Homo sapiens: one gene and its partners. The protein of the gene in region 3 purifies or fractionates together with the protein of the main gene of each other region. This does not show direct contact. Each region holds a gene or a part of one and is shown on either strand. Other genes may lie near its edges.

Region 1 (3,500 bases), on a different chromosome or scaffold from region 3:
ATATATTCAGCCATCTTTCTCAAGATCATACCTGTAAACAATACTTTTTTGCCTTGATTAATTATTCTTGAGTTGACCTGTTTTAGTGAAATACAATTAGGCTGTCTTTGGAATGACACTGATAGATAGTTTAAACTGATATTAAAAACCTGCTAAATATGCTATAGATGGATTATATGCCAGCCATATTTTTGGTTACTTATTAAGATTGTTAAAAATAAGAATGATGACGAACATCCAATTTTGGAGCTGTAGCATGACTTGGAGGGCTTATTCAGTAATATATTCATGGCATGAATGTTTCTAATTTTAATATAAAGAAGTTTTCATTTCAATTAATGCTATGAAATATTGAGTATTAAAGATTATAGAAAAGCCCATAATTGTGTTACAATGCGATAATAATCATTGGTCACTCAACGGTATCTCTCTACCAAAGATAAGAGGTAGAGAGGCAAATAAGAATTTGCCTACAAAAGACTGAAAACAATGAAATTCTAATAAATGAAAATGTCTTTATATCTTACCAGGTCTTCGTAAGCATGATGTATGCTTTTTAATTACCGTACGTCCCACAAAACCTTATGGCACTAAGTTTGACCGGAGGAGACCTTTTATTGAGCAGGTTGGCCTGGTTTATGTCAGAGGCTGTGAAATTCAGGGCATGCTGGATGATAAAGGACGTGTCATTGAAGATGGTATGGTGACCTATATTTTTGAAAGAGTATGTGTATAGAATGATAAATTTCTTTGCCTTTTTCCCTTTTTGCTTCTTAGGTAATATTTTTTAGTTCTTTTACCTACTAAATTGACACAAAGGATTTTGTATCAAATATGTGTAGGGTACCTACCGTGCAGTTTTAGATATAGGTAACATGGTTTCTCACTGTGTCACACAGGCTGGAGTTCAGTGGCACAATCTCGGCTCACTGCAACCTCTGCCTCCTGGGTTCATGCGATTCTCCAGCCTCAGCCCTGCTAGTAGCTGGGACCATAGGCACGTGCGACCATGCCCGGTTAATTTTTGTAGAGATGGGGTTTCCCCATGTTGCCCAGGCTGGTCTCAAACTCCTGAGATCAAGCACTCCACTTGCCTCGGCCTCCCAAAGTGCTGGGATTACAGACATGAGCCGCCACCACACCCAGACAGTTTCAGAACTTCTATGTTAGATATTGGAAAGGACAGGATCTTTTTCTTTTTTTCCCCCCAAGACGGAGTTTTGCTCTGTCAACCAGGCTGGAGTGCAGTGGCGCGATCTTGGCCCACTGCAACCTCTGCCTCCCAAGTTCAAGCAATTCTGCCTCAGCCACCCCAGTAGCTGGGATTACAGGTGCCTGCCACCGCGCCTGGCTAATTTTTGTATTTTTAGTAGAGACAGAGTTTCACCATGTTGGCCAGGCTGGTCTCGAACTCTGGGACAGGATCTTTTGAAATCATCTTTATTCAAAGCTTTTTAAAATATGTAATACTTTACCATATTTTTTTTAAGAAACACTCTAAATATCTCTTACAGTTGTCCAAGCTTTTTTGTGTTCAATGATATATTTTTTCTTCTTAAATTTGACTATTTTAATTCATTGTAGTGGTGGTTCTTAATTGGGAACAATACTGTCCTGCGTTTGAAAATGCATAGTGATATTTAGGTTTTCAAATGACCGGGATAGAGGTGAGGAATGGCAGGCTCTTGGCATTAGGTAACTGTGAGCCAAGGATGCTAAACATCTGAACAGAAATAAAAGAAGGAATTATCCTGCATAAGATGCCAACTTTACCGCATTTAAAAACACTGCTTTACAAAATTAGTCAGTTATTTGATTTCTTATGTGTATCACTTATTATCCCTTTGAAATTCTTTCTTCTGTTGTCCTGACTTCCTTTATAATACTTATTATTAAATTACAACTGCATACATGTCTAGTGCTTATTTTACAATTTGGTTGTTGTACTTCTTTTGAAACTTTAGTCAGTTTATGCTATCTGTGGTTTAGAGATTATATCATTGCTAAACTGCTGATGATTAAGTTATTTATCTCTAGAATGAGAGGAAATAGGAGAAGGGAATGGAAAATGGATGGAATAAGCATAAGGCCACATAATGGAACCAAAGTTCGAGGTCTAAGACCCCCCCTTCCCCCCACCCCCCCCAAAAAAGAGGAGATATGTCAGAGAGGAAAGAAAAGGCTCTGGGCTTTCAACCATTAGTATCCTACATTTCTGTGTATGTGAAATTTCTTTTCATGCTGGTTATACTAGGTATGGAATGTGGAAGGATGAGAAAAGTGATGAACCTCTGTCAAATTAAGGAATTAATGAATAGAAAACTATGCCTTAAATTCTAAAATACATATATTTAATTAGAAAATATTTATTGAATACTTACTATATGTAAGGCAGTAGTGGGAGCTATGAGTGACAAAAGTAAAGATAAGTTCTTTGACTTCTAAGTACTCCTATTTTAGTTGAGTGTGTGTACAAATTATTGCAAGTCATGGTGTTGCATCGTAAACATTACATGACTGCTATGGAAGGAAATAGTAAGAATTTAGAGAAAGAAGAAAATACTTTCAGCATCTTAGAATTTGAAGTGGGTGAGTGGAGGGCATTCTACTTTGGGAAGAATGGTTGGAGTTAAGCCTGAACCATTTACTCACCATTTCTAGAAAAGAAATACTGTTAACTTATTTTGATATTTGAAAAATACATATTTTATTTAACAAACTTTTTCAAATTGTCCAGGACCTGAACCCAGACCCAATCTTAGAGGAGAATCAAGGACATTTAGAGTGTTTTTGGATCCAAACCAGTATCAACAAGATATGACCAATACTATACAAAATGGAGCAGAGGATGTGTATGAAACTTTTAATATAATAATGAGGAGAAAACCAAAGGAAAATAACTTTAAGGTAATTTGGGGGTATGTAACTAAAAGTACTATGTCATAATTTAAGTAACTTTTATGACATAAATACAGAGATATTTGGTTAGAGGAAGATTTGTTAAGAAAAAAATAATGACTGCTTTTATTTTTACTATAAGCAATCCTCTTAAACTTTTAACAAAATGATGAAATATAAAAATTTAAAGAAATTGATTTCTTAAATCTATTTTGTCTTTTGAGGAGTTTAAAAACTTAAAATATAGATGAATCCAAGTGTTATTCTAAAGGTCCACCTCCTTTTTTGCTTTTTGTATATTAGGTATTCAGTTAATGCCCTATTATGAAGTGAAGAAAACTTGCTTACTTGTTTACTGGGGCTTCTTTTTTGAATCAAAAGTAGGTATACTTCCAGGTCACTTTAAGAATACAGATATGGAATCTCAAGGCTCTGAATTACTATACGTTATAATATATTTTTACTCATTAGTAGGAAAGGGAGGTTTGGTGGCTCAAAGTTCTACTTTTAGAATAACTTTGTGGGGAGAAGAGTTTTAGTAAAGGATAGTTTTAAAAACCATTATTTGAAACTATATTATAAAACTTAAACATTGAACAGTT
Region 2 (3,500 bases), on a different chromosome or scaffold from region 3:
CTCCTGCAAACAGAAGTATAGCTGTGCTTCACAGGAGAGGCTTAAAAAGCCAGTCACTCACCTTTACACACCAAATACCAATGTGGCTCCTACCTTTCACACTTCCTGTATTTCTCTGGGAACTCTTACCTTCTACTCAAGTTGAACGGCCTGTAATATGGCAAAGAGCCACTTTACAGAAGAAATGGAGATATTTAACATGAGGGCCACCTTGAAGAATGGGGGAAGAAAGGGCTTTTGGAATAGGATGGGCTTGGAATCAACATTTGATTTTAAAGTTACTTTTTCAAGAAAGGACCATGGAGACATAAGCGAGAACATTTGAACACGTACTATGTGATAAGCACTCTACAAAAGACCTTAGGTAGATGATTTTATGTAACCCGCGACCCTGTCAGATAGGTGTGTTCATAATCTCATTTTACCTGAAAGGAGATCAGGACATGAGAAGACTAAGAACAGTGCCCAGGAAAACAAAAAAAAAACATGGTTGGCAGGTAACAGGGCTGAGAAAGACCATATACACAAAAAAGTGATTGCACATCCTTGCTATGGAAAATGAACCAACTGCCCCTGTCTCATCTGTGTGCTTGCTAGAAACTCAGCCTCCTGGGCCTGACCCCACTTGCTGAATCAGATGTTGCATTTTACTAAGATCCCCAGGTGATTCCCAAATGCAAATCTGAGGAGGACTGTATCAGGTTTTGCTTTTGACCCAGTGTCTTACACCAGTCATTCTCAGTCCTAGTTGGATATTTTTCTTATCTCTGGAGCTTTAAAAAATACTAACATCCACTTGTTCCCTACCAATTAAATCTAAATAATCATACATGGGCTCTGAATTTCAGTAGTTTAAAAGCAAATTTCCCCAGGAAATTCTTTTTTTAAAATTTATTATTTATTTATTTTATTTTATTTATTTATTTTTTTGAGACGGAGTCTCGCTCTGATGCCCAGGCTGGAGTTGCAGTGGCACCATCCCAGCTCACTGCAAGCTCTGCCTCCCGGGTTCATGCCATTCTCCTGCCTTAGCCTCCTGAGTAGCTGGGACTACAGGTGCCCGCCACCGTGCCCGGTTAATTTTTTGTATTTTTAGTAGAGATGGGGTTTCACCATGTTAGCCAGGATGGTCTCCATCTCATGACCTTGTGATCCACCCGCCTCGGCCTCCCAAAGTGCTGGGATTACAGGCGTGAGCCACCACGCCCAGCTTCCCCAGGGAATTCTTAAATGCAGCCAAGACTGAGACTGACTTTATGATCTTTCCTCTTCTGAATGGTTGTTGTGAGGACCAAGGGCATAGTGCATTGCAGGCTCTCAGCTCCCTCTAAGACCTCAATAAATTTTACCTTTTCCTGCCATCATCTTCTGAGTGGTTTGCAATACAGCTTTTCCTGCCATCATCTTCTGAGTGGTTTGCAATACTAGACAGTCTCTGGCATAATAATTATTAGAATGAATAGTGGATTGGTGAAAGAAGGGGAAAGTAGTGACTTTTCTATGGCATCATTGATACACTAATCTCCAAGTGAATATGGTAACTGAAAAGTGAATCAATTTGCGATATTGCTAAATAAACTAACACATTAAAGGTAACAAAATATATTTTTGAAGATAAATATGTATTGTAATTTCATTGACTGCTAGGAATGCAATCATTTTAAATGACTGCCAAAATAGTTACCTCTCCCTACTTACAGACTGTCCTAATTTCCCAAAGAACAAAAACTCCTACATTAGTAATAAATATAAATGCTTATTTAGCATATTTGCTTAACTAACTGCAGCATACATCTATATGCAATGGCCACAAAACCGAGAAGCATAATGTTTCTTTCTGATTATGTGAACAGTCAAAATATCTTAATCTAAGTATCTTTAACCTTGGGAAAAATAATGTAACTTTTAATACACTCTTACTATGTTATAAAGATCAAAAATTCAATTGCTTAGTGCCTATTAGAAATTGCATTGCCTGTATTGATTACGAACCATTTCATGTAAATATTGTTATAAAAATTAACTGCAGGCTGGGCGCGGTGGCTCATGCCTGTAATTCCAGCACTGTGGGAGGCTGAGATGGGTGGATCATGAGGTTAGGAGGTCAAGACCGTCCTGGCCAACATGGTGAAACCCCGTCTCTACTAAAAATACAAAATATTAGCAGGGCGTGGCAGTGCACACCTGCAGTCCCAGCTACTCAGGAGGCTGAGGCAGGAGAATTGCTTGAACCTGGGAGGCGGAGGCTGCAGTGAGCCGAGATCACACCACTGCACTCCAGCCTGGGCAACAGAGCAAGATTCTGTCTTAAAAAAAAAAAAAAATTAACTGCAATAAGTTAGATGAAAGTGAAGCTGTATCAGATTAACAGAAATTATCTAGTGAAATATCCTGATTTTAATGTTTTCTCTAAGGATGTCTAGCTGGTTTAGGAAGAAACTCATTGCTTAGAAATTAGTCTCTGTCTCTAACATAAACACTCACACACTACAAAGAGGGAAGTTATTTTCCAATTAAGTAAGGATGCCTTCAGGAGTGCCTACTTCTTTTGTGGGTATTGTCTCCCTGAATGAGTAGGTCTTGTTAAATCTCTAAGATTTCAATATGAATTTCTAATACGTTTGTTATATCTAATGATGATGTCCAAATACTGCCTTTACTTCTAATCTATTTTCAGATCTCTATGCAGTCTGCTGTCCTACTAATATAGAGAGAAAGGAAGATGTGAATGTGAAGTGCAGAAAAAAAGCCAACATAACAATTTATCAATCTGAAGTCCTTACCTTTAATAAGAATGAAGCAGTTGAGGTACCTCCTTGTTTATCACAAGTGATCCCAGCCCCATCTTTTTTGAGTTCATTTATTCCTTCCTCCCTTCCTACCTCTCTTCAACAAATATTCATTGTATACTAGGTACTGTGAATGTAATGGTGAATTAAACATGAGCTCTACATTGACAAATTTAGCATCTCTAGAGCCAGTAATAAAAGCAGTGCTGTGATGGGGGAGCTTCAGAGGCTATAGGAGAATGCATCCAAGGAACTGGGCTTAGTAGGGAGTGGGAGGTCAGAGAAGGTTTCTAGAGGGAGGTGATATCTAAACAGAGAGAGGAAGGTTGAGCAGAGTCGAGCTGACCAAAAAAAAGTAGAGAAGGGGAGGGTGGCAAAGAGGGTTTAGGTGTGGAAAATGAATGCATACTACCTTACAACATAATGTTCCAGGATATCTAGGAATGTTAACAGCAAGCCAATCCAAGCTAACTTTACTATGGCAATTATGCAAATCTTCAAACTAGCATAACTAATAAGGCCTAATGGTTGTATATATATATTTTTTTATTTGGTAGCAGAAAAGACTTTAAAATATGTTGATGTTTGCGAGGTAAAGCATCTATGTAGGGCATTACTATCAAGGCTTTTTTTTTCTGCTTGAGTCTATATTACAAACATTTTATTATGTCTCTGCTGAGATTAATTTAAATGTGCAAATTTTCAATTCCT
Region 3 (3,500 bases):
ACTACATGACAGGTATTATCCTGTTTTGCTCATCAGGGAAACTGAGGTTCAGAAAGGATAAGGGACTTATCCAAGATCACAAACCAGAATGTGGTGGAGCCAGGAATTCAAATGAGTTCCAACTCTTTCCATTGTCTTTATTACATGTTTTATAGCCTGGGTCCATATATTTTCAAGTAAAAACACTAATTAGGGGTACCTCTGAGTTCAAAAAACATTGCAACCATAACACACAACCAGATGGTCATAATTAGGTAAGCTGACTCTGCTCCTTAATTCAGTCTCTCTTTATATACACATCCCACCTTGACTCTAGGCAATTTTATCAGATTAATACCTGATCAAGAATAAAGTTCCTCTTTGTCCGGGAAGCAATCTGGACCAGCTTACTAAGGCACTGGGAGGCTTGCTGAACTAAAAGGTCTCGGCTTTTGGGGTCCATCTCTGGCTCCTCGAGACCCTTCATCTGATTAGTTTGAGAGGAAGTGAAAAAAAAAAACAAAACACAAGTTATATTGCAAGTTAAAGCCCAAGAGTTATTGGTAAATGTCACCTCTTCAAATACTGAATCTATGATATCACTCTATTCCCATTCTTCAGTGCTGTGAATGTTGTCCATTTCCTGCAGTAGTCATTTCTATCTAGTCTTAACCTGGATGTATTTCAGATCTCATCTGCTTTCAGAAATTTGACAACACAGCAAAGAAAAAAAAAATCAATCCACCTAAAACGCATAGAGAAAAATCTCATTTCTCTATTTCTGGGACCCTTGTTCTCAGACACTTGAGACTAATTCTCCATTAAAGATAGGTTATAAGAGTCTCCAAATACTGTATCCGACAAATCCCCAACAGCAACTTACCCTCATTTGATTGAGCACAGTCTCAGCTCCCAGGACATTGTATCTTTTCTCAGGGTTTTCTTTTGCATATTTCAGTGCCCACTGGGTCTTTCCAGATCCGGGTAGTCCCACCATCAGAATCACCTGCAAAAAACAGAACCAGAAATATAATGAAAAATAAATGAGGGTCATGTTTATCAAAACCAATTTAAGAACATCCTCCCATTCCTGTTTGGTAACGCTCTGAGACCCTGGAGAGCATACGCACCCACCTCTGCAAAGCATACAACCTCAGTGTTCGTATACTGTTTGGCATACCTCACATTCCTCTATGGTCTTGGGAGGGACTGCAGTGCGTACACGCTCCTCAACAGGCACAGCATGAATGAACACAAACTCTTCTGGTGGTGGGAAGAAGGGCTCCTCCTTCTGACCGAAGTTTAATTCTACAACACAATTTTTGCAGAGGACATGGGGTAGAAGGGCCCGGTCTGCCAGGGAATCCTTGCTGATCCAGAATGCCACACCTAGGTCTTCTCCATTCTTGGAGAAGGAAAGTTCTACTTCTTCAGTCTCAAAATTCTACAATGACAAGGGACAAGAGCACTTATTGGCTGACGAGGCTTTGGGTTGATTAAACTTTACAATTTATTCTTTTTTCACACAGACTGCTGCACAAAGTAACTAAGCGAGCCACACACATCACATGCATAAAAGCCAGCAGTTGATGGGAAGCACAAGTGAATTCCCAGTGCCCTCTATCCGCTCCTTGTTATAACCCACAACTTTCAGGAGCACTTACAGCAAAGCAGCCAATAACATCATTCTCCCCAAAAGTCTGGCCAAATTCCTCAAATTGTCCATTTTCTGCCTTGAGTCCTCGTCCATCGAAACCGTAAGAGAATTCATCTTCACCTAGAACAGTCAACAAATTAGTTACCTACAACCGGACTTCCCATAGAGTAAGCAATATGGTAGTAAACACTAATGAGGAACTTAAAGAAATAACTTTACCAAGCTGTGGACGGGAAAAATCAACAGACCACCCAACTCGAAGGAGAGAGACCTCTGTGCAGCCTTCTTTCATTGGGAGATTCTGGGTTACCTGGCCAAGTCAGAAAGGGAACTATTAGATATTGTGACCAACTGAGTAGCAAACTCTGAGTTCGAAGGACAAGATTTTTATACAAACTGAAAACGACATTTACCTCAACTCAACATCAGAATAACAATCACTGAACTTAAAGCCACAGGGATCAATTTCTTGGTTACTGAAACTAAGGTTCTTGTTAAAGCACAGTGCTTTTACCTACCTGCACTAATAAAAGCCTGATTGGACAGAAGTCCAGTATACATAGGTAGTAGCTTAATGAATAAATGAACGGTCTTTTTAAAAAAATATTTCTTCCCCAGCCAGGTGCGGTAGCTCATGCCTGTAATCCCAGCACTTTGGGAGGCCAAGACGGGCGGATCACCTGAGGTCGGGAGTTCAAGACCAGCCCGACCAACATGGAGAAACCCCATCTCTACTAAGAATACAAAATTAGCCAGGTGTGGTGGCGCATGCCTGTAATCCCAGCTCCTCGGGAGGCTGAGGCAGGAGAATCGCTTCAACCCAGGAGGCAGAGGCTGTGGTGAGCCGAGATGGTGCCACTGGACTCCAGCCTGGGTAACAAGAGCGAAACTCCATCTCAAAAAAAAAGAGATAATAATCTTCTTTTCCCCCTCTAAGAACCGTAAGCATCCAGTAATAAATGAATGAATGAATGAATGGTCTTAATGAGCTACCTTTGCCTCAAAGCAGACTTTTCCCTTTGTCACTCCGTAAGTACTCCTTGCCCCAGACCAAAGGGTGGGGAACTTCTCTGAGAAAAGTGGCTGCCCTCCATAGCGGTCTTTGCTCACTTGAAAATGCAGATCCGAGGTATCTGTAAAGAAAGAAGCAATCAGTTTACTCCAATGTCCAATACTTGTAAGCCGCCAACAGAGCATAAGTATACCAGTTGTTGTAGTGGATACAAAGTCTCATAGAATTTATAGGCTATGAAGTTTTAATCTCCAAAATCACTTTTAGGAGATTAGTTAAAAACCACAGTCTGTCTGCCTTATACATACACGTGTCCAGGTTCACAAGAGTTTGATCCTCCTCCTCATCTTTTGCCTCTTCTTCAGGAGGCAGTGGAGACTTTGAGCTATATATGTAAGATAGAAAAGAAACACAATGTAAACAAAGCCCTCTTCTTTGAGGGGTGTGTGTGTATGACATTATGTCCATTTTAAACTGTCAGTGAATATCAAATCCCAGCAGACAGCTTTTTCCAATAAATGAGAAAGGGCAATAGGAGTTTCCATGGTAGATGCAATCTAAAACTCATGCCTATAAAAACCTATTCCATTTTGAATCCACCCTCCTTCCAGTCTCTCCAGTCAATACCAGGTATACCAAAATCAGAGCAGACACTCCCTTCAACGAAAGGGACTGTTTCCCTCACCGGCTGTGGTAAGCCTCCTCTCGGAATTCATAGTAAGCTCGGCCATGTTCATCCTTCTCATCCCGCTGTCTCTTTACCCCCCGCCGCTCACCATCTGAGCCTGCTGGTTTTGACTTTTCACTATCCTGGTCATCTCCTACAAAAACGAGGGAAAGAAAATCAGCAGT
Region 4 (4,281 bases), on a different chromosome or scaffold from region 3:
TGCCAAGAAGGATTAATGTCTTCTCAGTATTCAGGACATGCCTGCCGATGCTAAGTCACACATGCACGCTGAGTGGAGAATGCCTTTAGCTCATGTATAGGAATCACAAGGTGATCTCAGCCAAACCTCAATGTAGCCCAGAAGAGGAGAAACACTGGCTGTCTTAGGAGACAAATTAGCACAAGGTATTATTTATGTATCATTTATCAACTGTGAAATTTTAAAAAATGGTTATAAATACAGTACTTGCAGCATAAACCGTTATTTGTTTTATTACACTAAGTTCCATTTAAAAGGACTCCATTCATGCAGGATGCTCTGTTTTGGTTGGCTGAGCAGTCAGATTTCTGTGCTTATAATTCATGTATACACTTACTATGTGTATTGAGTGCACTCTCCTAATTCCAGTTGCCACAGTCAGACTGTAAATACATATGTTTTGTCATTCTTAACTACTGTAATTCAGAACTTCAGCTGCCAAATTTGGTGCTAATATTCTCACATATGCAGTTCATGCTCTGCTCTTAAGTAATTCCTTGTTTGCTGTCAGCAGCTTCTACCATGATATATAAAATGGTAGAATCAATTTAAAGAAAAATAACCTAAATTGTTAGCTAAATGGAGCTACAATGTGTTTTTCTTCTTGAAAATATTCCCTTTTCTATTATTTCCTTTATTTAGTAATTATAAACCCTGGTCAAGCAAAAAATACATACAGCAGAACATTTTAAGTACCAGCAAACCACAAACAGCAGTGTTTTCAAGAAGAAAAAAAGGAAAATCTCAGTTTCATGCTAGACCATCCTTTGAGGCACTGTCATTTTAAGTGTGGAGGCATCAATTATTTCCCCTAGGCTGAAAGATCTACACATATAAAGGTTCTATAGATCCACTAAGAAAATAAGCAACCATTTCTCTGTATCATTAAACACAACAGGATACTAGTCTTGAAACACCGGCAAAATTCTGAGTGTGAATATTAAGGTCTCATATTTCAGTTTCAAGTGAAATAGAGTTGTTTTAGGCCAAAGAGGATTGAGACCATACTTCAAGTTGTCAACTGCATAATATTTCAAGGGTCAAAGACTAGCTCCATTTCAAAAGCCTGTAACCTTACAGCCTGAAGAAACCCTGTGGGTCTCCTAGTTCAATATGACACCCAAGGCAGGAATTTTTCCCCTAGCATCCCTGACAGATGGTCAGCCTCTGTTTCAATTACTCCAGTGGGGGAGTTCTCAAGAGAAGGTTCCCAAGGGCTATGATGAAAGGCTAGAACCAGCCATTCAGACCTGGAGGAAGGCTCCAGTCAGCAAGCTCGCAAGATACAGACAGCATTACCAAACATTGAAACCAGACTTCCACAAGCAAGAATGCGATTCCGAACTGACCATCATAAAGATGCAATGTGTAAGACATACAAACCCCAATTCTAGAACCATCCAAGGTCCTTTTACTGGCCTAGGGAGTAGCTCCCACAATGGGGTAAGCAAGGTGGCTTTTCTCCGACTTATTATTATTATTTTTTAATGACTCTTTAAGGCTCACAGCAAGGCTTGATCAAGTCAGGGAGCACCAAATCCCTTCCTTCCAAAAACCAAGGCAAGGGACCCGCTGGTGGAAATGCTAAGGCTTAAAATACTCTTAACTTTGGTCTTAAATTCGTCACTACAGTAAACCAGAACATTTCCGGTTTTTCTTTTAAAGATGTACATAGGCTATGCCGTAACCGAAGTTTGGTTGGTGTAGGGTGGATTGGGGGGAGCGGTGTTTTAAGCGCAGCCCTTCATCCCGCCTTGAAGTCTAGCTTGATCCTCCCAGGAAAGGCGAGCGCGCGGGGCTGAGCTGCCAGCCGGTCCCCAGCCGGAGCCTGGGACGGGGCGGTCCGGCCCTTACCTGTCAATGCTGATCACGCACAGGGTCATGATCGAGGCCGTGCAGCACATGACGTCCATGGCGATGAAGACATTACAGAAAAAGTGTCCAAAGATCCACTTGCCCCCGATGAGGTCGGTGACGCTGACGAAGGGCATGACCGCCACAGCCACCGAGAGGTCGGCCAGCGCCAGGGACACGATCAGGTAGTTGGAGGGCTGGCGGAGCTTCTTGACGAAGCACACGGAGATCACCACCAGGCAGTTGCCCGCGATCGTCAGCAGCGTGATGAGCGTCAGGATGGAGCCGATCACAACTTTCTCGACTCTGCCGTAGTTGATCTGTTCCCCACAGCCGGAGGCATTGTCCGGGGGCGCGTCCCAGGTGGGCGCCGGGCTGGCTGTCACCTCGCTCAGCAGGTGCGGCGCCCAGGAGCCCGCGACCGGGTCGGCGCCACCGTCGGGGCTCAAGTCGGGCAGCCCGCGCCCCACTTCTGGCAGAAGGAAAGAGCGGAGGTGCCCGTAGAGGTCCGGGCGGCCGCTGCTGTTAACGTCCATCATCGCGCCGCCGTGTGCCGCTGCCCATGGAGCCGGCGCCCCGGCCACGCGCCTCCGGCTGCCGGCCCCGGGGCTTCACCTCACCGGTTCCGCTCCGCCCGGCCCAGCCATGGGGCCCGCGCCGACCGCTGGGGGGCGCCTGGCTCTGTCTCGGAGCCCCGCACTCCCCGGACCCCCGGCCGCTGCGGGTAACGCGGCAGCGCGGCCTCACGGGGACTCCCTGCGGGAGGCGCTTCGGCCCCCGACGGACGCCTGGGACGCGCGGAGTCGAGGGAGCTCGGGCTGGGCTCCGCTGGCAGCTCCACAGTTCGCAGCAGCAGCTCGGCTGCGCCGAGAGCGCCCGGGCGGCAGCGGCAGAAGTTGCGGAGTGCGCCCCGCCCCTCGCGCCCGCCGCCGCCGCCGCCGCCGCCGCCGCTCCCCTGCGGCAGCCGCGCCGCGTCCCCGCCGCCGCCGCCTCCGGCCGCTGCCCGCTCCCTCGCGCTCCTGGGACGGGATACCCGGGCTGGGCAGGCACCGCCGCCTCTCCCGCGCCTCCCTACTGTGAGGGGGCGGCGCTGCACGCGCCTCCCGGGATCCCGGGTCCCCTCGCCCGGGAAGCTGTCCTTGCCGCATGATAGATACTTAGAACCCCTCCAGCCGACCCCAGCCTCCGCACACTAGTCAGCCACAGTTCAGTGGGGGCATTTTTCTTTTGTTAAGAGGCCTAATGAGCCAGCGGATGTTTGGGCTCATTGCGAAATGAAGAACCTAGAGGGGGATTTTATTTTTCTTAATTAAACAACAACCAAAAAAACGTCTCTGAGCACTACACTAAGCAACAAATAGGTACTTCCGTTTTCTATTTTGACCGCTTATGGGAAGAAGCGAAGATGGAAAAGAAGCAGCCGAATGGGGTGAGGGTGGGAGCTCCGAGAAGAGGAAGAAAGAAAAAAAGGAGGGAGGGGGATTCCTTAAGCCCCTGGCACCCAGGAGATGAGGATGCTCTGGGGACAAGGCCTCCAAGGGGGTTACACCCATTTGGACTAATCCTTCCTGGATGTCTAGAAACAGTCCTCTCCGCTCTGAAAATAGACCCTGATTGCCTTTATATTTAGACTTCAAAGCCTAATATATTGAAAAGAGAGTTAATTTTCCCGTAGCATTCTGGAAGTCTTACACATAAGCAAAGAAATGACCGGTTATACTCTTCTATAAAGGAATCCTGGAGGTGTATGTTGATTTAATACCTATTGGCTAAAATTCCCCTTGGTATCCAAACCCTGTCAGAGCGGCTGATTTTTATTATTTGTGAGACTTGCTTCATTCCATTTTGTTTGAAGGTTTCATTGGAAGCCAGCAGTGATTTCTGTAGTTTAAGACTCTAAAAATAATCAAATCTGTTTTTTCTTGTTAGGCCCTAGCGGATTATAAATAAGAAGAAAAGGAATAAAAACCTCAAAGTATATTGATCAGAGTGCTGAATAGTACTTTCATTCTTCAAGGTGGGTATTAGCTCTGTTTTTCCAGATAGGGAAGGTTGTTAGCTCTTGCAATCAGCTGGTAAGGAATAGTTATGTTTCAAACCCAAGTTTATCTGATTACTATGCCCATATTCTTCCCTGTACACATTCAGAAAAAGTTTTAATGGAAAAAAAAAAAAGCCCTAATGTTCACAGCTCTTTTGCTGTGATCAACATTTCAGAGGCTCCTCTCTGCCTAGGATAAGCAAACCAATCCATTGAGTCAGAGGAAGAGTTGAATATAATACCTAGGCCACAAAGCAATATTATCTAACAGTTAAGATGGATGAGGAAATTTCTTCAACCTTACTTATGTTAGTTATTCTCTGTTTCGCTTTTCTTGGTTTGTTATC

The links. The genes of interacting proteins can lie anywhere in the genome.
Region 1: the proteins of HNRNPUL2 (region 3) and AQR purify together in Homo sapiens (affinity purification with mass spectrometry; one large-scale study listed by BioGRID and IntAct). This does not show direct contact.
Region 2: the proteins of HNRNPUL2 (region 3) and HCN1 purify together in Homo sapiens (co-immunoprecipitation; one large-scale study listed by IntAct). This does not show direct contact.
Region 4: the proteins of HNRNPUL2 (region 3) and HTR7 purify together in Homo sapiens (tandem affinity purification; one large-scale study listed by IntAct). This does not show direct contact.

The regions. Positions count from the first base shown.
Region 1 is NC_000015.10:34,903,743-34,907,242, reverse strand, and holds part of AQR (RNA helicase aquarius), read left to right. Parts: intron 1-530; coding exon 531-698; intron 699-2,737; coding exon 2,738-2,907; intron 2,908-3,500.
Region 2 is NC_000005.10:45,262,881-45,266,380, forward strand, and holds part of HCN1 (potassium/sodium hyperpolarization-activated cyclic nucleotide-gated channel 1), read right to left. Parts: intron 1-3,500. UniProt on the Homo sapiens protein: Hyperpolarization-activated ion channel that are permeable to sodium and potassium ions. Displays lower selectivity for K(+) over Na(+) ions.
Region 3 is NC_000011.10:62,720,958-62,724,457, forward strand, and holds part of HNRNPUL2 (heterogeneous nuclear ribonucleoprotein U-like protein 2), read right to left. Parts: intron 3,470-3,500; coding exon 3,334-3,469; intron 3,034-3,333; coding exon 2,957-3,033; intron 2,770-2,956; coding exon 2,630-2,769; intron 1,947-2,629; coding exon 1,856-1,946; intron 1,757-1,855; coding exon 1,644-1,756; intron 1,424-1,643; coding exon 1,160-1,423; intron 986-1,159; coding exon 863-985; intron 467-862; coding exon 338-466; intron 1-337.
Region 4 is NC_000010.11:90,855,240-90,859,520, forward strand, and holds the start of HTR7 (5-hydroxytryptamine receptor 7), read right to left. Parts: upstream 2,801-4,281; 5' UTR 2,433-2,800; coding exon 1,894-2,432; intron 1-1,893. UniProt on the Homo sapiens protein: G-protein coupled receptor for 5-hydroxytryptamine (serotonin), a biogenic hormone that functions as a neurotransmitter, a hormone and a mitogen.